7 linked regions of the Homo sapiens genome follow. The protein of the gene in region 6 purifies or fractionates together with the protein of the main gene of each other region. This does not show direct contact. Each region holds a gene or a part of one and is shown on either strand. Other genes may lie near its edges.

What was found.
Region 1: the proteins of MAK16 (region 6) and RRP8 purify together in Homo sapiens (affinity purification with mass spectrometry; 2 studies listed by BioGRID and IntAct, with this or other methods). This does not show direct contact.
Region 2: the proteins of MAK16 (region 6) and RPF1 purify together in Homo sapiens (affinity purification with mass spectrometry; 2 studies listed by BioGRID and IntAct, with this or other methods). This does not show direct contact.
Region 3: the proteins of MAK16 (region 6) and RSL24D1 purify together in Homo sapiens (affinity purification with mass spectrometry; 2 studies listed by BioGRID and IntAct, with this or other methods). This does not show direct contact.
Region 4: the proteins of MAK16 (region 6) and ZC3HAV1 purify together in Homo sapiens (affinity purification with mass spectrometry; 2 studies listed by BioGRID and IntAct, with this or other methods). This does not show direct contact.
Region 5: the proteins of MAK16 (region 6) and FTSJ3 purify together in Homo sapiens (affinity purification with mass spectrometry; 3 studies listed by BioGRID and IntAct, with this or other methods). This does not show direct contact.
Region 7: the proteins of MAK16 (region 6) and DDX27 purify together in Homo sapiens (affinity purification with mass spectrometry; 2 studies listed by BioGRID and IntAct, with this or other methods). This does not show direct contact.

What each region holds. Positions count from the first base shown.
Region 1 is NC_000011.10:6,597,595-6,600,616, reverse strand, and holds part of RRP8 (ribosomal RNA-processing protein 8), read left to right. Parts: intron 1-34; coding exon 35-131; intron 132-351; coding exon 352-471; 3' UTR 472-3,022.
Region 2 is NC_000001.11:84,496,266-84,498,852, forward strand, and holds the end of RPF1 (ribosome production factor 1), read left to right. Parts: coding exon 1-105; intron 106-1,163; coding exon 1,164-1,205; 3' UTR 1,206-2,087; downstream 2,088-2,587.
Region 3 is NC_000015.10:55,183,624-55,186,941, reverse strand, and holds part of RSL24D1 (probable ribosome biogenesis protein RLP24), read left to right. Parts: intron 1-1,516; coding exon 1,517-1,580; intron 1,581-3,318. UniProt on the Homo sapiens protein: Involved in the biogenesis of the 60S ribosomal subunit. Ensures the docking of GTPBP4/NOG1 to pre-60S particles.
Region 4 is NC_000007.14:139,047,221-139,050,720, reverse strand, and holds part of ZC3HAV1 (zinc finger CCCH-type antiviral protein 1), read left to right. Parts: intron 1-2,867; coding exon 2,868-3,127; 3' UTR 3,128-3,500.
Region 5 is NC_000017.11:63,818,933-63,821,798, reverse strand, and holds the end of FTSJ3 (pre-rRNA 2'-O-ribose RNA methyltransferase FTSJ3), read left to right. Parts: coding exon 1-76; intron 77-155; coding exon 156-445; intron 446-683; coding exon 684-769; intron 770-860; coding exon 861-960; intron 961-1,360; coding exon 1,361-1,544; intron 1,545-1,625; coding exon 1,626-1,720; intron 1,721-1,804; coding exon 1,805-1,997; 3' UTR 1,998-2,366; downstream 2,367-2,866.
Region 6 is NC_000008.11:33,491,682-33,495,181, forward strand, and holds part of MAK16 (protein MAK16 homolog), read left to right. Parts: intron 1-3,500.
Region 7 is NC_000020.11:49,239,916-49,243,415, forward strand, and holds part of DDX27 (probable ATP-dependent RNA helicase DDX27), read left to right. Parts: intron 1-1,977; coding exon 1,978-2,072; intron 2,073-2,167; coding exon 2,168-2,291; intron 2,292-2,678; coding exon 2,679-2,766; intron 2,767-3,500. UniProt on the Homo sapiens protein: Probable ATP-dependent RNA helicase. Component of the nucleolar ribosomal RNA (rRNA) processing machinery that regulates 3' end formation of ribosomal 47S rRNA.

The sequences.
Region 1 (3,022 bases), on a different chromosome or scaffold from region 6:
TGTGCACTTACACAGAACTTTCTGTCTTTCTCAGGGGTCTCCTGAAAGTGGCTGAGGTCAGCAGCCGCTTTGAGGATGTTCGAACCTTTCTGCGGGCTGTGACCAAGCTAGGCTTCAAGATTGTCTCCAAGGTGAGGGCCCCAAGACATCTGTACCTGTTTTTGTCTCATGTGGCCCTATTCAGGGTACTGGTGTTCAGGAAGGAGGCTTTAGGCACAGGAACAGACATTTTGCTCCCCAACGGAAGTGGGAGCCCTGGGAAGCTTTGTGAGCAGAGGCAGTACATAGAGGGAGGTGTTTTAAGGAGTTGGGATGAGGATTTGGTTCTCACTGGGTCTTTTCTGCCCCTAGGACCTGACCAACAGCCATTTCTTCTTGTTTGATTTCCAAAAGACTGGGCCCCCTCTGGTAGGGCCCAAGGCTCAGCTTTCAGGCCTGCAGCTTCAGCCATGTCTCTACAAGCGCAGGTGACCTCTGGATCTTCCTTGAAAGGGGAGGCAGATCTCAAACTCCAGGCTCAGAACTGTGAAGACTGTTTCCAGCCTGGCTGTGAGCCAAGACCTGGTTCCTGGTGGACCCTGAGGACAAAGTGTGATAAAACCTCTGGCTCAGACTTGCTCTACTGAAGGCTTCTTGGTTATAAGATGCATAAAGTCACTGGGGCTAGCTAAACAATAAAGAGTTTATTGTGAGAACATGGGGATATCTGTCTCATGACACTTCAGGTGTTATGAAAACTAGATGGTTTGGAATTCAAGGCATCTTTAGGTTTTGCTCTTCTTTCCAACTAAGAAGCCACATGGCCTTCCTGTCCTGCCATCTCCACTCTGCTGTCATCTGATCTGTCTACAGATCAGCTTCCTCTGCTCACCCATAGCTTCTGCTCCTTCAGCTTCAGTTTGCCCAGGCCTTCAAGGTTGCAGACAGGCAGCTGTTGCTGTTTGACTCTGAGGCAACTGGTTGTCCACCAACATCTTGGCTCAAGACATCAGTCTGAGCCACCAACTTGAGACTGTTTGGTTGTCCCCATACCGAGCATTTCTAGTGGTTTATCTTTCCCCTCTCCCCTCATCTCCATTTTTGGAACCATATAGCATCAAGCCACTCCCAACACCTATTGTCCTGTGGGACTTTGGGATGTATATAGCTGAGAGCACAGATTTTGGAATCAGGTAGACCTGGATTTAATTCTTGGCCTGCTACCCAGAGGCACTTAAAGTCATTTAATCTCTGTATATCACATTCCTCATTTGGAAAATGGTAGAATTTTTGTCTTGCAGGGTGGTTGTGTGGGTTAACTGGAGAAATCTGTAGCCAGGGCTGGGAACATAGGAGGTGCTCAGTAAACTAGCTATGACTATTATGTGTTGTAAGCCTTATTGTTTTTTGAAGATCTTCCCTAGGCTGGTTGGAGGCTGAGGGGTAAAGAATGGATTTGTTGACTAAGGAAGCCTCTGGGAGAGGCTAGACCTTTCAACAGGCCTGCTTCATAGGCTATTTAATGACTTTTAATAGATTCTGAGCTTCTGTCCTTGGAGGGGTAGTGAGGGAGCTGGGTCTCTGTTCATAAACAACTTGTTGATGCCATGTGGGCTTGGGGGCATTGGGCTGTTCATTGGCGGAAGAGTCTGTCCACTATCTCTGCCTTGCAGTGGACTCAGATCAGCATGTCCTGGGAAAGCTATAGGCAAGGTGCTGAGGGAAGGTGAGTTTGAATGATAGATTCTAGGCCTCCCCCAAAAGGTATCTGCCATGTGCCCAGGTATAAAGATATGGCCTCTTGTACTTGTTTCCAGGAATACCTGACAGTACCCATTGGGAGATCATAGGTTCTATGCCCTGAGCCAGTTGGATGCCTCTAATAAGGGGATGGAGGTTTTGAAACAGGCTGTAGTCCAGAGGGCATGTTTGGAGGCTGGGCTGTGAATCATTAGGCAGGCACTACACAGTGCCTCTACACGTACTGTTCTTTCTGCTGGATATTCATCGGACTGGCAGTTTGCTCATCTTTCCGAACAGCCTAGTTGTTTCCTATTCTACTCCCAAAGCAAAATCAGTTCTTCATCTGTACTCTCAAAGTACTATGTGAAGAGTGCTACTTCAGCTTCTAAATATTGCATTGTGATTCCTTTGTGCATTTGGCTGCTGTTTTCTCAAGCCATGTTTATCTTTGTATTCCCGGAGCTTGTCATTTGAGATATAGCCAGTGTACTTATTCACCTAGGGAGAGATAAGGAATGACAGGGTCCAGTTGAGTGGGATAGATGAGAACAGGGGTGTTATAGAAACCCAGGTACTAGGGCACAAGATGAGGGCACTGTTGACTAGTCATGATGGAAGAAGTAGGCAGACAGGAGAACTTCATTAGGTAGAATTGGTGGGATGTTGAGGTTGGTAAGAGAGGAATCTGAAGTAAGTTCCAGGTTGCTCAACTGTGGGTAGGCTGGTGATGCCATTCAAAGTGTTGGATTTTAGGAAGTGGGACATGCGTGAAATCTGTGCTGGGGGTCTGGGAATCAGCAGCCTAGAGGTGGTAATTAAAGTCAGAATAGATGAGATATTCAGGGTAAGATAATGAGAAGAGAAAATGGCTCAGAATAGAACTGAGGAGCATGTCATGGATGGGTAAAGGAAAATGAAGCAGTGAAGGTGATGGAAGAGGAGAAGGTTCACCCAGAGATGTAGGAGTAAAACCAGGAGAGTTAATTTTTTTTTTTTTTTTTTTTTAAGACAGAGTCTTGCTCTGTGGCCCAGGCTGGAATGCGGTGGCGTGATCTCAGGTCACTGAAACCTCTGCCTGCTGGTTCAAGCACTTCTCCTGCCTCAGACTCCCGAGTAGCTGGGAATACAGGCACATGCCACCACGCCCAGCTAATTTTTGTATTTTTAGTAGTGACGGGGTTTCACCATGTTGGCCAGGCTGGTCTCGAACTCCTGACCTCGAGTGATCGGCCTGCCTCGGCCTCCCAAAGTGCTGGGATTACAGGCATGAGCCACTGTGCCCAGCCAGTGTTTTTTTTTT
Region 2 (2,587 bases), on a different chromosome or scaffold from region 6:
AAAGTGGGAATTCAGGAACTTGGACCACGTTTTACCTTAAAATTAAGGTCTCTTCAGAAAGGAACCTTTGATTCTAAATATGGAGAGTATGAATGGGTCCATAAGGTATGTGCTTATTGTTTAAAAAGACTAAGTCATTTTTAAAGTATGGGATAAGAGGGTGGGAGGAGAGAGAGCATCAGGAATAGCTAATGGATGCTGGGCTTAATACCTAGGTGATGAAATGATCTGTGCAGCAAACCACTATAGCACGTTTACCTATGTAACAAACCTGTACATCCTGCACATATACCCTTGAACTAAAAAAAAAAAAAAAAAAGATACAATATCTGGGTCTGGTGATTAACCTTGGCTCATCTGAAGTATAAACATTAGTGGTTCTCAAAGCGAGACCAGCACCATTACCTAGGAACCTATTAGGAATGAAAATTCTTTGGCCCACAGACCTACTCGATCAGCAATTTAGGGGGTGGGACCCAGCAGCAATCTGCTTATAAGCCTGTGTTATATGTGACTCTACTACATGTTTCTTGAGAACTATTGATAAGTTTTCTTAGAAGTTTGGAGATCATCATCTTAAATCATAAATGAAAACTTTTTTGTTGTTGTTGTTTTGTTTTTTTTGAGATGAGTCTCAGCTTTGTTGCCCAGGCTGGAGTGCAGGGGCGCCATCTCGACTCACTGCAACCTCCACCTCCCGGGTTCAAGCTATTCTCCTGCCTCAGCCTCCCGAGTAGCTGGGATTACAAGTGTGCACCACCACACCGGCTAATCTTTTCTATTTTTAGTAGAGAAGGGGTTTCCCCGTGTTAGCCAGGATGGTCTTGATCTCCTGACCTCATGATCTGCCTGCCTCAGCCTCCCAAAGTGCTGGGATTACAGGTGTGAGCCACCGTGCATGGCCTAAAACATCCTTTTCTATCTAGTATAAGCAGTACTTCACTTAGTAACATTTTACTTTAAAATCACACACACACAGTAACTGCCAACATCTTTTATATTAGACCGAAGACTGACTATTCGGGGTCTCGCACAAACCCGGTTTTTCAGCACTAGTGTTACTTATGAAGATCTAGGGACGTTAACTTTTACTGTCTTACCTGAATTGTTAATTATATTTTTGTTTTGTTTTCTTCCTCCACTCCCTTGCTTTCCACTTTCAGCCCCGGGAAATGGATACAAGTAGAAGAAAATTCCATTTATAAAGTACTGAGAGAATGATATTGGATTTTGCTGAACAGGCCTATCTTGAACTTTGGTAAATTATTTTTGACAGAATACTCTTTTCAAAATGGCATTTGCTGATTTCATAAACCTTTCACGTCTGGACGAATTACCAAATGCCATGAATTGCCACTGTGTGTTTATGTAGAAAATACAAATAAAAGTTATTTTGATGGCTTAGGTTTCCTTAAACTTAGTTCTCTTGTTTTTGGGTAACTGTGAATAATTAAGTTGGAATCAAGATTCAGATTAACTTTCCTATTTGCATAGAACACATGAGAGGAATAAAATGGTTGGTAAATATTGGCTAACCCTTGATTTTTATACCAGATTAACCTTGGATTCCCAGTGTCTGGCACAGTTTTAATAGCTTAAATGGAGGCCAGGTTTCTGGATGTTTTAACATTCTCTTAAGCCTTCAGAAGGGTAAAAAATTTAAAGCAAAATGATCTACCAGGGTTTAAAGCAAAGTTGCAAATTACTGAAGCTAATCTTTGCTTCCTGATTTTGAGGTTTTTGGTTTTTTGTGCCCACGTTGTGGGGAGCTCTTTTTTACCTCATTACATGGTGCTGTAGTACTCCATTCAGGCACTGAAACAAAGTTAACCCTATAAGTAACTCATGGATGGAAACCCGTAGAACTTAACAGCCTCCTCCTGACCTTAAAAGAATAAAGGTTCACAGTTTACCTTTAATTCCCTAGCAGTCTTGCCAGATGTATGGCATAAAGTCATGTGAGAAGAGTAGGTGGAAAAAACTGTACAAACTTAACCCCTTCAGGTGTTCAGAACAGATTAATATACCATGTATTTAATACCAATAATAATGCAAAATAAAAGTTTCATACTAAGTTTTATTGTATGCTGCTGCCAGTGTATATAAAACAATTACCCTTGTGAAATAGAAATTCATGAAAATTCAGAGAGGTAGATGTTAAGGACTGACGAAAGTAGAAGTTTGTATATTATGGCACATGTGTTACAGGGATAAGCTTTTGTACAGGCTTCAAATGTAGCTCTCTTGAATATTCACTGGATCATAAGGAGTGGTTTGGGAAACCTAAGATGGGGAAAAAAAAAAAAAGGTGAGTTAGGGTAAAGTATCAAAGAACATAGTTTTTAATTTTTTTCATGAATAACTTAAAAGAAGCAGGATGGGAAATGCCTATGGTCCAGTAACAGTAAAATCTTTCCCTTAATTTTCACAACCACTCTGATGTATAAGTCATTCCTGTTTTATAAACAGACTTACAGATTAACTTGCTAAGATTACTGCCAAAATACATTCTGTATATAATAAAAAAGGTTAATAAAACTCTCTTAAATCAAAAATCCAAACATCCTTAGAAAAATGAGCAAGACTA
Region 3 (3,318 bases), on a different chromosome or scaffold from region 6:
TTTGTTAAATTAATTTTTTCTCTTTGTCTCTCTTCTTTCTCCCTTTCTCCCTTTAGTGTATATTTTTCTGAACTGTTTAAGCATGCAAAATACTTCTTGGTCCCTAGTTTAATATGTATTTCCAGAAATAAGAGCATTCTCACATAACCACACTGCAATTATTAAAATCAAGAAATTAACATTGATAGACTATTATTACCTAATCTTAGTCCTATTCATATTTCTCCAATTGTCCCAGTAATATCCTTTATAGCAAAATTTGTAAGAATAGTACATGTCATGTCTCTTTAATCTCTTGTAATCTGGAACATTTCCTGAGTTTGTCCTTATATTTCATGATATTGACAGTTTAGAACAATATGGGCCAGGCGTTTGGTATAAAATTTCTTAACTGGATTGTTTGGTGTTTCCTTCAGATTAGGTTTGGATAATGCACATTTGGCAAGAGCACCAGAGATTTGATGCTGAGTTTTTTCAGTGTGTTTTGTCAGGAGACACAAGCTGTCCATTAGTTCCATTACTAGCAGTGTTAACTTTGATCATTAGGTTAAGGTGGTGTCTGCCAGGTTTTTCCACTGAAGAGTTACTGTTTTACTCTTTTTAATTAATAAGTATACTTTTGAGAGATACTTTAAGACTATATAAATATCTTATTATTCTTTAGATCTACAGACTACACTTTAAAGAGCTAGACTAGATCAGAAGTGTCTGAGCTACTGAGCCAGTCTAAATTGCGTTGTGCTGTAAATGTGAAATGAATGCTGGATTTTGAAGACTTAATATGAAAACAAGGATAAAATGTTTCACTAGTAATTTTATATAGATTGCATGTTGAGTGACAGTATTTTGGAAATTTGGGTTAAATAAAATGTATCATTAAATTTCCTCCTGTTCGTTTTTACTTTAAAAAATACGGCTACTAGAAAATTTAAAATTTCATATGTGGTTTGTCTTTCATTGGATAGTACTGATAGAAATTTTAGAGCATAGTTGGACTCAGCCCCCTTTTAGCCAACACTCCTGTAGGCATTTTCTAAAACAGTTGGATTTTTGTGGTTGAGAACTTAGTAGTATTGATTGTTTGGTTCATTCTGCTAATATCATGTGCTGACCATATCCCAGGCACTTTTAAGTGTTCATAACCAGAAAGATGCTGTCTTTATTCATGGAAATTACAAGTTAAGAATGGGATTAGTTGTCAGTAGTCCAAGTTCTCTTTATAGTAAAATTTGAAAAGCATTGGATTGGTTTAAAGTGGAAGGAAAATTTAACAGCAGTAGAGACTTTTGTCAGATAAAAATTAGAGAAATGATACTTGTGAAAGAGAATGTTGAGAGTCATGATGGCCAGGAGTATACACCTTCTTCAGCTTTTTGAGTAGGGATTGTTTTTGTAATGATTTTTTTCATGTAAATTCATTTCTAAATCAGAATAATAAAGAAGTGTTTGTTAATGCAGTTGTTGATCATACCGCTTGAATGTGCATACATTTGCTAACTCATGAATTTTTTTGTAGTTGATGCGATGAAGAGAGTTGAAGAAATCAAACAGAAGCGCCAAGCTAAATTTATAATGAACAGGTATGAATATTTGTATGGAGTAACTTTTGGAAAATAATTACTAGTAGATATTTAGAGGCATTAGTATTTTTTAAAAAAATTTTTTATTTTGACATAACTTCAGACTTACCAAAAACTTCAAGGAATAATATGAAGAACTCTTGTATATTCTGCTAGCATTTTACATTTACTTTATCCTTGTCTCAATGTATTGAAGACATAATGCTTTTTCCTTCTAAGTATACTTAAGTGTGTGTAACCTAAAAATAAGAACATTCTCTTAAATAAACACAGTATGGTTATCTATCAGTCAGGAAATTAACATTGATGTAATACTATTATATAATCTATAAACCTTATTTAGACCTCACCAGTTATTCTGATTACGTCCATAGCAACACAAAGTCCTTCATATTTCTTCAGGCTCCTTTAATCTGGACAGTTTCTCATCTTTCTTTTACGTGACATTGATAGTTTTGAAGACTATAGGTCAAGTTATTGTATAGAACGTTCTTCAATTTGGGTTTGTCTGATACCTTCCTCATTAGATTTTGGCTAGGCACCTTTGGCAGGGATGTCTCAGAAATGATGGCGTATCCTTCTCATGCATCATATCGGGAAGCACATGATGTCACCTTGCTGGTGATGTTAACTTTGATCACTTGATTAAGGTGATGTCTGTCAGGTTTCTCCACTGGAAGATTACTATTTTGTTTTCCTTATAATCAGTACGTATTTTGGGGGAGATACATAGAGATTCAGTAAAAAGCCTATTACTCCTCAAACTTGTACCTACTGGTTTTGGTTTTCATTAGAGTCTTGCCTGAATCAGTTACTACTATTGTTGTGATTGTTGCCAAATGGTGGTTTTTCTAATTCCATCATTTCTTCTACATTTTTTAGTTGATTTTCTCATGTAAGAAAGAGCTTTCCCTTTTCCATCAATTTCAAGATTTATTCCTTTATTCATATTACATCTGTGTGTATTCATGGATTCTTATGGTATACATTGGGTTATAATTCTTTATTGTCATTATTTATTTTGAAGTTCTAAGTGGCCCATATTTGGCCTGTGGGAGTTCCTTCAGGCAGACTGTCATGTCATTTTGACAATTCTCCTCATTCTTTGAGTGCATTCATGTTTTATAGCTAACAAGATGTTTCCTCTTCCCCAGCTTGGAATCAACTATTTTTTTCAGAGCAGGACCATTAGCTTTTAAATTAATTGCTATGGAATATGTCATGGAAAAGAAGCACGTGCCAGCAGCTTTCTGGCTTAAAAATTTTAAAGCATTTCACAAAAATGTTTGAAAACTAGTCTGTTAGCATTTCTATTGAATATCATGTGATTTGTGCTCTTGTAATTACCCAATGGTTTTTTAAAAATTATATAACAGAGACTTATCTATTTGAGGAGAAAAGATCTAGGCACTGTAACAGTTAAAGGTTGTTTTATGTAGTAGAGCACTGCTTCTTTTCATGACTCACATCCTTCATTTACTTAGCAAATATGTATTGAGCTCCCATTTCGTGCCAGTCTAGGTACAAAGAATGAATGAATGAATAAGTGTTGTGGTAGGGTAGGAATCCTATTTTGAGCTAATTACGAACTAAAAAACCACTTTGAGTTTGAGTTGTTAGAGAAGAAAATGTACATTTGTGAGGGCTTAACAGGTGACCTTACCTTAGATTTGGGAATAAATGTAAGGTATATATCTCTTTTAGGTTAAGTTCACCACTTGCCATTTGGGAGTAATGT
Region 4 (3,500 bases), on a different chromosome or scaffold from region 6:
TATCCTATGTTAGAATTCAAACAAATATTTATCCTAAAAAATGAAATGTTAGGCTAGGCACTGTGGCTCATTCCTGTAATCCCAGCACTTTGGGAGGCCGAGGTGAGTGAATCACCTGAGGTCAGGAGTTTGAGACCAGCCTGACCAACATGGTGAAACCCCCCCATCTCTAATAAAAATACAAAGTTAGCTGGGCGTGGTGGCACATGCCTGTAGTCCTAGCTACTCGAGAGGCTGAGGCATGAGAGTTGATTGATCACAAGAAGGGGAGGCTGCAGTGAGCTGAGATCCTGCCACTGCACTCCAGCCTCAGTGACAGAGGAAAACTCTGTCTCAAAAAAGAAAAAAATAAAGCACTCAGAAATGTAGGAATAGAAATGAACTTTCTTAACACAATAAAGGGAATTTTAAAAAAAGAAAATATAGATTCCAGATTATATAAGTGTGATATAAAAAAACTGATGCAACAAAAACAAAAATGGACAAATGAGATAGCATCAAACTAAAAAGCTTCTCCACAGTAAAGGAAACAATTAACAAAGTGAACAGACAAACCCACAGAGTGGGAGAAAATATTTGCAAGCCATACATCTGATATGGGATTAATATCCAAAATATGTAAGGAACTTAAACAATTCAACAGCAAGAGAACAAATAACTCAATTTTAAAATGTGCAAGCTGTTCCCATAAGTGGCCTGCGGTGATCTGTGAAAATGGTTCACTATTCACTTGACCCAGAAAACTCCATGAAATCATGCAAATAAAGAGGTTCAAATCTTCATGTTCACTCTAAGGACACCCATGAAACTGCCCAGGCCATCAAGAGTACGCCTATATGAAAAGCCAGCAAATGTCTGAAAGATGTCACTGTATGGAAACAATGTGTACCATTCCAACGTTACGAGGGTGGAGTTGGTAGGAGTGCCCAGACCAAACAGTGGGGCTGGGCACGCAGTTTGTGACCCCAAAAGAATTGAATTCTTGCTGTACACACTTAAAAATGCAGAGAGTAATGCTGAACGTAAGGGTTGAGCTGTAGATTCTCTGGTCGTCGAGGATATTCAGGCGCACAAAGCACCCAAGATGTGCCACCAGACTTCCAGAGCTCATGGTTGGATTAACTCATGCCTAAGCTCCCCCTGCCACATAGAGACAATCTTCCTGAAGAAGCACACCGTGTTCCTAAACCAGAAGAGGAGGTGCACAGAAGAAAAAGCTATCCTAGAAGATACTGAAGAAGCAAAAACTTACAGCACGGGAATAAATTCAGCGTAAAATACATGCAAATAAAAGTTTCAAAAATGGGCAAAAGACTTGAATAGACATTTCTCAAAAGAAGAAATACAAATGGCCAATGAGTTCATGAAAAAATGCTCAACATCGCTAATCATCAAGCAAACGCAAATTAAAACCACAATGAGCTGTTGCCTCGCACCGATTAGAATGGGAGGCTGAGGTGGGAAGATTGCTTGAGCCCAGGATATCAAGGCTGCAGTGAGCCAAGATTGCACCACTGCACCCCAGCCTGGGTGACAGAGACCCTGTCTCAAAAACAGCAGCAACAACAACAACAACGAAAAAAAAAAAAAAAAAAGGAGAGAGAGAGAGTTGGATGTACTGACATAGCAAGATTTCTAGGACTAAAGTGGAAAAAAAAGTTGTAGAACAGTTCATATATTATGATCCTATTTATGAACAAGTAAACCACCATAAACCACCATATGCACATATATGTATGTGAATGCATAGAAACAGGTGTGAAAGAATTCCCGCCAGCCATAAACTGTTTTGGGAAGGGGAGTGGGATTGGACGTCGTAGGTCAGTATAGGTAGACTTCCATATTTTACTTTAAATATAGTAGAACATCATTTGCACAGAATATCTAGTATCTGACCTATTCAGGATAAGCAATGTTTCTGGAATTCAAACATCTAACTATAAAATGATAAAAAGAACAAAAACAAAGTAGATGGGAAGTATATTAAACATTTGTTACCACAAGTAAAACAATTCATTTTACTTATTGATTCTTGCATGGAAATAGGAGTTGCAATATCTACTCATGGTCTTTAAAACGACAGAGTAGCTTTCTTAGAAAATATTATTAGTATTTTTTGATACAGAATCTCACTCTGTTGCCCAGGCTGGAGTGCAGTGGTATGATCCTAGCTTACTGCAGCCTCAACTTCCTGGGCTCAATCAATCCTGCCTCAGCTTCCTGAGTAGCTGAGATTACAAGTGCACGCCACCATGCCCGGCTAATTTTTAAATTTTTTGTAGAGATGGAGTCTCCCCATGTTGCCCAGGCTGGTCTCAAATTCCTGGGCTCATGTGATCCACCCGCCTCAACCTCCCATAATGCTGGGATTACAGACATGAGCCACTGCACCTGCCCAGAGTAGCACTTGACAATGATAAAAATAAAAATTTTAACTTGGCAGGAAATTGTTGGTCTGCTGTGTATGGAAGCAGCAATCGTTATCTGAGGTTGTTTTAGAGTTGAGGACGAAGCATCAACTGACTCATCAGTTCCAAGTTTGCTCATTCAGCTCACACTGGGTGAATTGCATGAATTGGGCCACTGTGACATTGTCATTTGGTCATTGCACCCAATGGCTCACACTATCAGCATGAGCTCTGCACTGTAGCAAATATTCCTCAGTCATTTCTATAGGGTTATATACTGTATTTAAGTTCGCCTGCATCATTAACATGTTTTTAAGTGCAAAGGAAAGTTTATAAATATCAGTAAGGTATTATTGACATATGCTTAGTCCACACCCATCTGACTGTATATAACAAATCTTATAAACTGTATACCTTCTTTTATAATATTTCTTAACTTTTCTTTCTGATTCTTTCTAGGAATTTACTTTGCAAAAGATGCCATCTATTCCCACAAAAATTGCCCGTATGATGCCAAAAACGTCGTTATGTTTGTAGCCCAAGTTCTGGTTGGAAAGTTTACTGAAGGAAATATAACGTACACGAGCCCTCCTCCACAGTTCGACAGCTGTGTGGATACCAGATCGAATCCCTCCGTTTTTGTCATCTTTCAGAAAGATCAGGTTTACCCACAATATGTGATTGAATATACTGAAGACAAAGCCTGCGTGATTAGTTAGAACCGATGAATACAGCGTCAGAAGGATGCCATAACCATTCTGTTCCTTTACAGAACTAAATTGCCGCAGACAGGAGTTAAAGTTTTATATTTTCCTGCTCAGTTATCTAATGTCTTAGATCAGTGGTCCCCAAATTTTGCTACATATTAGAATCATCTGGGAGGTTTTAAACAAATTCTGATGCCCAGGTTGCACCCCATGCCAATGAAATCATTTCTGGGCGTCAGCGCCAGGCAGTTGTATTTTTTTTTTTTTTTTTTTTTTTGAGACTGAATCTCACTCCATCGTCCAGGCTGGAGTGCAGTGGCGCGATCTCGGCTCACTGCAACCTCTGCCTCCCGGGTTCAAGCAATTCTCCTGCCTCAGCCTCCCG
Region 5 (2,866 bases), on a different chromosome or scaffold from region 6:
GGAGAATCCACTGCTGGTACCACTGGAGGAAAAGGCAGTACTGCAGGAAGAACAAGCCAACCTGTGGTTCTCAAAGGTAAGGAGAGGCCGGGGGCAAGACTGCGGGGAGATGAGTCTTCCTTGGGAGAAGGGCAGCTGATGTTCTCCTATCACAGGGCAGCTTTGCTGGGATCGAGGACGATGCCGATGAGGCCCTGGAGATCAGTCAGGCCCAGCTGTTATTTGAGAACCGGCGGAAGGGACGGCAGCAGCAGCAGAAGCAGCAGCTGCCACAGACACCCCCTTCCTGTTTGAAGACTGAGATAATGTCTCCCCTGTACCAAGATGAAGCCCCTAAGGGAACAGAGGCTTCTTCGGGGACAGAAGCTGCCACTGGCCTTGAAGGGGAAGAAAAGGATGGCATCTCAGACAGTGATAGCAGTACTAGCAGTGAGGAAGAAGAGAGGTGAGTAGTTGCAGCTGAGAGAAGGGATGGAAAGGAAGCGGTGGCTTGAACCATTTCTCTAAATTGGGGGTTCTTAATCTTGGCTGCACATGGGGAGGGTTAAAAATACTGTACTGACGATCCTGATTTAACTGGTCTGGGGTACAGCCTGCATGGCAGGATTTTTGCAAATTCCGTGGGAGTGCGGTCTGAGTAGTACAGAGTGGTGGAATCACTCAGAGTCCTCCCCTCTTCACAGCTGGGAACCCCTCCGTGGTAAGAAGCGAAGCCGTGGGCCTAAGTCAGATGATGACGGGTTTGAGATAGTGCCTATTGAGGACCCAGGTGAGAGCTCTGTATGCAGTGGAATGAGAAAAGACCACTGGAAGTCTCAGTATTGGGAATTGAGCTTTGACCTTTCTCCTTCCCTCTCTAGCGAAACATCGGATACTGGACCCCGAAGGCCTTGCTCTAGGTGCTGTTATTGCCTCTTCCAAAAAGGCCAAGAGAGACCTCATAGATAACTCCTTCAACCGGTAAAGGGGCCATAAACTCATCAAGAGTGACCCAGGGTCTGGTGGGTAAATGGGTAATTTTTTGTTTTTGAGATGGAGTCTCGCTCTGTTGCCCAGGCTGGAGTGCAATGGCACGATCTTGGCTCACTGCAGCCTGATTCTCCTTGAATCGCTTGAGTCAGCCTTCTGAGTAGCTGGGATTACAGGTGCCAACCACCACGCCCAGCTAATTTTTGTATTTTTAGTAGAGATGGGGTTTCACCATGTTGGCCAGGCTGGTCAAACTCCTGACCTCAGGTGATCTGCCCACCTCAGCCTCCCAAAGTGCAGGGATTACAGGCGTGAGCCACCGTGCCCAGTCTGGTAATTTCTTTAGAAAGCCTGGAATGTTGGATATTAGACAGATGTCCTTTCCACTCAGGTACACATTTAATGAGGATGAGGGGGAGCTTCCGGAGTGGTTTGTGCAAGAGGAAAAGCAGCACCGGATACGACAGTTGCCTGTTGGTAAGAAGGAGGTGGAGCATTACCGGAAACGCTGGCGGGAAATCAATGCACGTCCCATCAAGAAGGTGGCTGAGGCTAAGGCTAGAAAGAAAAGGAGGGTAAGTGATGGGGCCTCCAGAGATTGGGTGGGGTGGGGGTGGGGGGATGGGGAAGAGGTCACCTGACAGGTTCCTTTGCAGATGCTGAAGAGGCTGGAGCAGACCAGGAAGAAGGCAGAAGCCGTGGTGAACACAGTGGACATCTCAGAACGAGAGAAAGTGGCACAGCTGCGAAGGTAATGGGAGGACACCACAAAGGTACACAGGGCTAAAAGTGCAGCAGAAAGCAAGCCTCTAACCTCTTCTCTTCCCCCCTGTAGTCTCTACAAGAAGGCTGGGCTTGGCAAGGAGAAACGCCATGTCACCTACGTTGTAGCCAAAAAAGGTGTGGGCCGCAAAGTGCGCCGGCCAGCTGGAGTCAGAGGTCATTTCAAGGTGGTGGACTCAAGGATGAAGAAGGACCAAAGAGCACAGCAACGTAAGGAACAAAAGAAAAAACACAAACGGAAGTAAGCAGAGCTGCCAGGCTCCCAGGAGAGCATGGGGACTAGGAGGAAGGGTGTGGCATGGCTCAGTCTGGCCCCCTTGATTACCGGCCTAGCCCCTGCTCACATCACAGCTGTCTGAAGAACAGTGAGGTGGAGTGCCTAGAACTCCCGTGGTGGTCCTGAGCAGAGAGGAGGATGTCCTCCTGCCTGCCTGAAGGTCTCCCATGAAAACACTGCTGAACTGTGTTGACACTCATGACCCTTTTTTTAAACCGTTAAAGGGAAGTTCGGTGTTGGAGCGATACTCAATGTAGTCAGTCTACACCTGGACGTGTGGGCCACTTAAGCCCTCCCCACCCCCATCCTATTCCTGAATAAAACCAGGATAATGGAAGAGTTGTCTTTTCTGACAGTTTTAATAAGCACTTCCCTATCTGTCCCTACACTGTGTGCGGCACTATTCTTAATATGTACCAATTCATAGACAGAAATGACAAACGATCCACAGGTCCCGGTAGTAAAACATTTACTAGAGAGCAAGCAGAAAGGAATGCACATCTTAAAGAAACCTTCACAAAGTCACAAAAGTCAAAGTTTGTATATTTCTTTTCCTTTTTATAAACGATAAACAAAAATCATCAAAATCATTTCAGCAAAAGACTTTTCTATCATTGGGGCAAGTTAAAAAAAATACAATGAGATAGAAGACACTTTAAAAGCTGTTGTTGGGTTTCTTGTTTAATTTTAAATTTAGCAATACCATCTCAAACCTGGAGCAATCCTGGAACAGTTACCAGGATCACCTTTTCCCTTCAATCCTTGTGGCTTCTGGGAATCTTCAGAGCCTGGGTCTGAAAGGTGTTTCCTACATGTCTCAGGGCTGGATGCAAACCT
Region 6 (3,500 bases):
GGAGTGCAGTGGTGCGATCTTGGCTCACTGCAACCTCTGCTTCCTGGATTCAAGTGATTCTCATGCCTCAGCCTCCCAAGTAGCTGGGACTACAGGTGCATGCCACCATGCCTGGCTAATTTTTATATATTTTGTAGAGACGAGGCTTCACTATGTTGCCCATGCTGGTCTTGAACTCCTGGGCTCAAGCAATCCAACCACTTCAGCCTCCCAAAGTGCTGGGATTACAGGTGTGAGCCACCATGTCTGGCCCTTTTATTCACTTTTTAATCCAATAATTAGAATTTTTTCCTATAGAGTTGTTTGAGCTCCTTATATAGTCTGGATTTTGTTTTGTTTTGTTTTTGAGATGGAGTCTCATTCTGTCACCCAGGCTGGAGTGCTATGGGGCAATCCCAGCTCACTGCAACCTCTGCCTCCCAGGTTCAAGCGATTCTTGTGCCTCAGCCTCCCAAGTAGCTGGGATGCCAGGTGTGCACCACCATGCCTGGCTGTTTGTTTTGTATTTTTAGTAGAGATGGGGTTTAGCCATGTTGGCCAGGCTGGTCTCGAACTCCTGACCTCAGGTGATCTACCTGCCTCAGCCTCCCAGAGTGCTGGGATTACAGACGTGAGCCACCGCGCTGGCCTGTATTCTGGTTATTAATCCCTTGTCAGGTGGATAGTTTGCCCAGTCAGTGGATTGTCTCTTCACTTTGTTGTTTCCTTTGCTGTGCAGAAGCTTTTTAACTTGATGTGCTCCCATTTGTCCATTTTTGCTTTGGTTACCTTTGCTTGTGGGATATTAAGAAATTTTGCCCAGATCTATGACCTGGAGTTTTCTCAGTGTTTTCTTGTAGTTTTGTAGTTGGAGGTCTTAGTTTTTTAATCCATTTTGGTTTGATTTTTGTATATAGCACAAGATAGGGGTCTAGTTTCATTCTTCTGCATATGGAGATCAAGTTTTTCCAGCACCATTTATTGAAGAGACTGTCTTTTCCCTAGTGTATGTTCGTGGCACGTTTGTCGAAAATGAGTTCACTGTACGTGTGTGGAATTGTTTCTGGGTTCTCTATTCTGTTCCATTGGTCTCTGTGTCTGTTCTTATGCCATTACTATAGTGTTGTGGTTGCTATAGGTCCATAGTATAATTTGAAGTTAGGTAATGTGATTCCTCTAGGTTTGTTTTGTGTTTTTTTTGTTGTTTTTTTTTGTTTGTTTTGCTGTTTTGTTTGGGATAGCTTTAGCTATCCTAGATCTTTTGTGGTTTCATAACAATTTTAGGATTTTTTTTTCTATTTCTGTGAAGAATGTCATTGGTATTTTTCTTTTTTTTATATTTATATTTGTCATTGGTATTTTGATAGGGATAGCTTTTCTTTTGATGCTTCTGTCCCCATTAATCACAGTTATGTATCTAAAATCTGTATCATTGGTCTGCAAAGTTGTGCTCACCTCAGTAAAATTTTTGAACATGTATTCCCCAATGTTATTTATAAATATTTTATTTTGAGACAAAGGTTCATTCTGTTTCTCAGGCTGGAATGCAGTGGTGCAGTTTTGGCTCACTGCAACCTCTGTCTCCTGGATTCAAGCAATTCTTGTGCCTCAGCCTCCCAAGTAGCTGGGATTCCAGGCATGCACCACCACACCCGGCTAATTTTTGTATTTTTAGTAGAGATGGGGTTTCACCACATTGGCCAGGCTGGTCTCAAACTCCCAACCTGAGGTGATTCACCCGCCTTAGCCTCCCAAAGTGCTGGGATTACAGGCTATAAATGTTATTATACATACACACTTCCACTAATAATACAATGTGTATTATAACTAATTGTGATGTAGTGAAACAAAAGTCTGCTTCTTAGCTGAGTATGATTTTGTCTTGAAGGGCTGTCATACATAACTGAGGGATTGTAGAGAAGTGCATTGTTGATAGGTGGTCTCAAGTACTTTAATTTTTCATTATGCTCCATTAGTTATGGAGCGGCTTTTTTTCAAGTCCAGTTAGTGAGTTTTCATCTCCAGTTGTCAAACAGGTGTTCCTACAAACCTTTCAGAAGAAATTAATTTTTTCTATTTTCACCAATTGAGTTTGTAACCCTCTGAAAAATGTAGATTTGGAAGAGTTTTAAATGCATTACAATATTCTGTTTCCACATTTTTAAAGTGTGTGATTGCAATTTTTATAGGAGACATGTTTTCAGCAGTGCCATATGTAGATATAATCAGTTTTCTTTTCACAACCTTCACAGAACAAGTTTTTTTTTTTTCAAAAAACAATTGTCTTCCTCAAACTATTAAAATGTTGCTTTTGTTTGGAAGACACAGATTAAGCGTATTTATTTTTAAAAATGTCTACTGGGTTACATAAAAAGATTGGCAAATTTGGAATATTTTTCTTTTTGTGAAAAGTGCATGGATCATCTTTAGGTTCTACAGCTTTTGCTCTGTCGCCCAGGCTGGAGTGCAGTGGCGCCATCTCGGCTCACTGCAACCTCCACCTCCTGGGTTCAAGCAATTCTTGTGCCTCAGCCTCCTGAGTAACTGGGATTACAGGCATACACCACTCTGCCCGGCTAATTTTTTGTGTTTTTAGTAGAGACGGGGTTTCACGACGTTTGTCAGGCTGGTCTTGATCTCCTGACGTCGGGTGATCTGCCCACCTCGACCTCTCAAAGTGCTGGGATTACAGGCATGAGCCACCTTGCCAGCCTGGTTCTACAACTTTTAAAAATACTAACCCATTAGATAACCAGCATACTTTTATAACTACTCTCTATCTTTGGCAGAATATTCAGTGTCATCTATGAATCCGCTTAACTAAGCAAACATAAACAGTTAAATAGTCGTCTAAATAAACAAGTGAGACCACCACTTGCAAGCCCTATCTGCCGTATTCCTCCCTTGAGATATCTGGCTCACTGTATCTGACACACAACTATTTACTTTATAGACAGAGTCAAGGCACCAATGTCAGTGTACAAGAAAAGTAGTAATGATGTTAAATTTTTTAAGGAAAAAGAGATATGTGGAAGTTTTGAATATTTTCTTCCTACACTTCAGCGGATACCCTTGAAGTGTAAACACCCCACTCTAGAGAACAACATGGAACATCGCTGTAGCCCTTTTTTTTTTTAAGATGGAGTCTTGCTCTGTTGCCCAGGCTGGAGTGCAGTGGCGTGATCTCGGCTCACTGCAAGTTCCGCCTCCTGGGTTCACACCATTCTCCTGCCTCAGCCTCCCGAGTAGCTGGGACTATAGGCGCCCGCTAACATGCCTGGCTAATTTTCCATGTGCCCCTACACAGTTTTACGTAATCATTCTAACATAACTTACAGATATAACACTTTAAAACCCTCTATGACTTTCACTATCAAATTAATGCACCATCCTGGGCTATTGTGTGGTAGTACAGGTTGATGTCATGTGTCATCTCCAATGAGAGATCACTGGAGGAAGAGATTTTTACCTATTCTGTCACATGGAATCTAGCATGATTTTAGAAAATGTAAACGAATGAA
Region 7 (3,500 bases), on a different chromosome or scaffold from region 6:
AAGGATGAACCTTGAAAATCTTAAGCTGAATGAAATAATCCAGACACAAAGGGACAAATACTGTCTGATTTCACTTACCTGAGATATCTAGCTAGGCAAATTCACAGAGACAGAAATAGATTATAGATTACTTAGGGCTAGGGGAAGGGGGGTTATAGGAAATTATTAGTGGTTGCAGAGCTTCTGTTTTCAATGATGTCAGTGAGTAGCCTCCTGATAGGAGTTTTGGAAACAGATAGTGGTGATGGTTGTACAATGTTGTGAATGTAAGTAATGCCACTGAATTGTATACTTAAGATTGGGTAAAATGGCAGCCTTTGTTTTATATGTGTATATATAACCACAATAAAAATAATTTTAAAAAAGTTAGGAGATATTTAATACAGATTTCCTCTCCATCTCCCTTTAAAAAAGACCCAAAACACTTATAAGTTCACATTGTTCTATGCCTCGCCTTTTCACTTAATTTTGAAGCTTAGAGATATGTTTTATATAGGCCCACATATGCTGCCCTTTTTGTTTTTTGTTTTCAGACGGAGTCTTGCTCTGTCACTGAGGCTGGAGTGCAGTGGCGCAATCTCGGCTCACTGCAAGCTCTGCCTCCTGGGTTCACCCCATTCTCCTGCCTCAGCCTCCTGAGTAGCTGGGACTACAGGTGCCTGCCACCGCACCTGGGTAATTTTTTGTATTTTTAGTAGAGATGGGATTTCACCGTGTTAGCCAGGATGGTCTCGATCTCCTGACCTCGTGATCCGCCTGCCTTGGCCTCCCAAAGTGCTGGGATTACAGGTGTGAGCCACTGCACTCGGCCCCCTTTTTGTTTTTTTTAATGGCTTCATGTTCTTCCATCATATGAGTAGATTGTTGAGGGACATTGAGGTTGTTTACAATCATTTGTCATCCAGCCTGGGCAGCATGGCAAAACCCCATCTCTACTAAAAATCAAAAAATTAGCCAGACATGGTGGTGCATGCCTATAGTCCAACTACTTGAGAGGCTGAGGTAGGAGGATCACCTGAGCCTGGGGAGGTCAAGGTTGCAGTGAGCTAAGATTCTGCCACTGAACTGCAGCCTGGGCGGCAGAATGAGACCCCGACTCAAACCACCACCACCAACAACAAAAAACCCAAAAAATAATCATTTGTCATTACAAACAAGTGATGTAGGGAATAACCTTGCACATATGCCCTTTTACAATTAAGCAAGTGTATATTTGGCTTGCAGGATTAATTCCTAAAAGTGGAATAGTGGGTCAGAGGATATTTGTATTTCTAGTTTTGTTAGAGGTTGCAAAATTTCCCTCCTAGAGGGTATACCAGCAGTTTTAGAAATGCTGTCTATATTTGATGGGACAAAATAAGGGTGTATATAACTTAAATTTCTGATAAAAATAGAGTTATAACTGTATTGGTGGGTAAAGTAGTAAAGTGACCTAAATCTTCATCCTTCATAGCAGGAGGTTTGTAATGAGTATCTTAAGTGGATTGAGAAATAGTCAAAAAAGCATGTTATTTAGTGAGATGGAGGTAATCAGTGGAAGAAGTGCTTGCGGCTTTTCTTTTCTTTTTTTTTTTTGAGGCAGGGTCTCGCTCTGTCGCCCAGGCTGGAGTGCAGTGGCGCGATCTCAGCTCACTGCAGCCTCCCCTTCCTAAGTTCAAGCAATTCTCTCACCTCAGCCTCCCAAGTAGCTGGGATTACAGGTGCACCACCATGCCCAGCTAATTTTTGTATTTTTAGTAGTCGGGGTTTCACCATGTTGGCCATGCTGATCCCAAACTCCTGACCTCAGGTGATCCACCCACCTCAGCCTCCCAAAGTGCTGAGACTACAGGCACGAGCTACTGCACTCGGCCAAGAAGTGCTTGCCGCTTTTCATTTTAATCTGCTAACTTACCAATTGAAAACGTGCACTTCTTATCGTAAGCTTAAAAAAAGATAAAATCATCCCTGAAATCTTATGCTTTCTTCTCATCCCAGTTGCCAAAGCTCTGCAGGAATTTGACTTGGCCTTAAGAGGAAAGAAGAAAAGGAAGAAGTTTATGAAGGATGCCAAAAAAAAGGGGGAGATGACAGTGAGTGGCCTCCCTTTTGGAGTTTGGGCCCACTCGGTGGGGTGGGTCAGAGTGGCCTGGTGTGTTCCACACTCACACCTCCCCACTCCCCCTAGGCAGAGGAAAGGTCTCAGTTTGAAATCCTCAAGGCGCAGATGTTTGCTGAACGGCTAGCGAAGAGGAATCGCAGAGCCAAGCGGGCCCGAGCAATGCCCGAGGAGGAGCCAGTGAGAGGTCCTGGTAGGTGAATGGGGAGCCCAAAGGAGCTTGTACAAGGTTTTCCCTGAAACCTGTGCTTTGGGTCAGGGAGAAAATCTGAGGGATGATGACAGTAGCCCACATTATTTGAGTAATTAGTATGTACCAATGTGTACAGCTATCCCTCCACGGTCTAAGGGGCGCAGTGACCTTGTGGTTGTTGAGAACTAGGATTTGAACGCCAGCTTTTCTGACTCCGGAGCCTAAGGCCTCACCAGCTGCTACTTGGAGGAGCTGGTGAGGACAGAATGAAAATAGTCTTTGGATGCCAGAGTATCCACTGAACTTGGAATCATTACCTTGAACTTAAGGGGATTTAGGAGCTTGGGCCAAAGACAACCATATGTAACCCATTCTCTCTGTGCACAGCCAAGAAGCAAAAGCAGGGGAAGAAATCTGTATTTGATGAAGAACTCACCAACACAAGCAAGAAGGCCCTGAAACAGTATCGAGCTGGGTAGGATTTTAAGTCATCATGGAGCCCTTGGTATTCTTTTTTTTTTTTTTTTTTTTTTTGAGACGGAGTCTCGCTCTGTCGCCCAGGGTGGAGTGCAGTGGTGCATCTTAGCTCACTGCAAGCTCCACCTCCTGGGTTCAAGCAATTCTCCTGCCTCAGTCTCCCAAGAAGCTGGGACTATAGGCGCACGCCACCATGCCCAACTAATTTTTGTATTTTTAGTAGAGATGGGGTTTCACCATGTTTGCCAGGATGGTCTCGATCTCTTGACCTCCTGATCCACCCGCCTCAGCCTCCCAAAGTGCTGGGATTACAGGCTTGAGCCACCGTGCCCGGCGAGCCCTTGGTATTCTAATGGAAGCTATGAGTCTTCTGCCTCCTTCCCCATTTCCAGTTTTTGCACACCTATAGCTTTATACTATGTAAATTCAAGGGTACCTGTCTGTTCTCCACCCCCCACCCCTCTCAGAGCCACCTGAGGATCCCAAGGTGAGAACAGGAGAGGGGTGTTCAGTTAGCACTGTTCCTGCCTTGGAGGTGAAATAGTACATTGTTGGGTTCAGAAATGGAGCTTTCCTTCAGGGGAGTGATAACTCTTTCATCTCAAGTTCCATCCTGCAGAACCCCAGAGAATCCTGGCTTGCTCTTAGGAATATGTTGTCCCACACCATTTTCCCCAGCCCAAGGTTGGGGCAGGGGCAGACTAAGCTTCCCAAGTAGTGGTATATACCTAA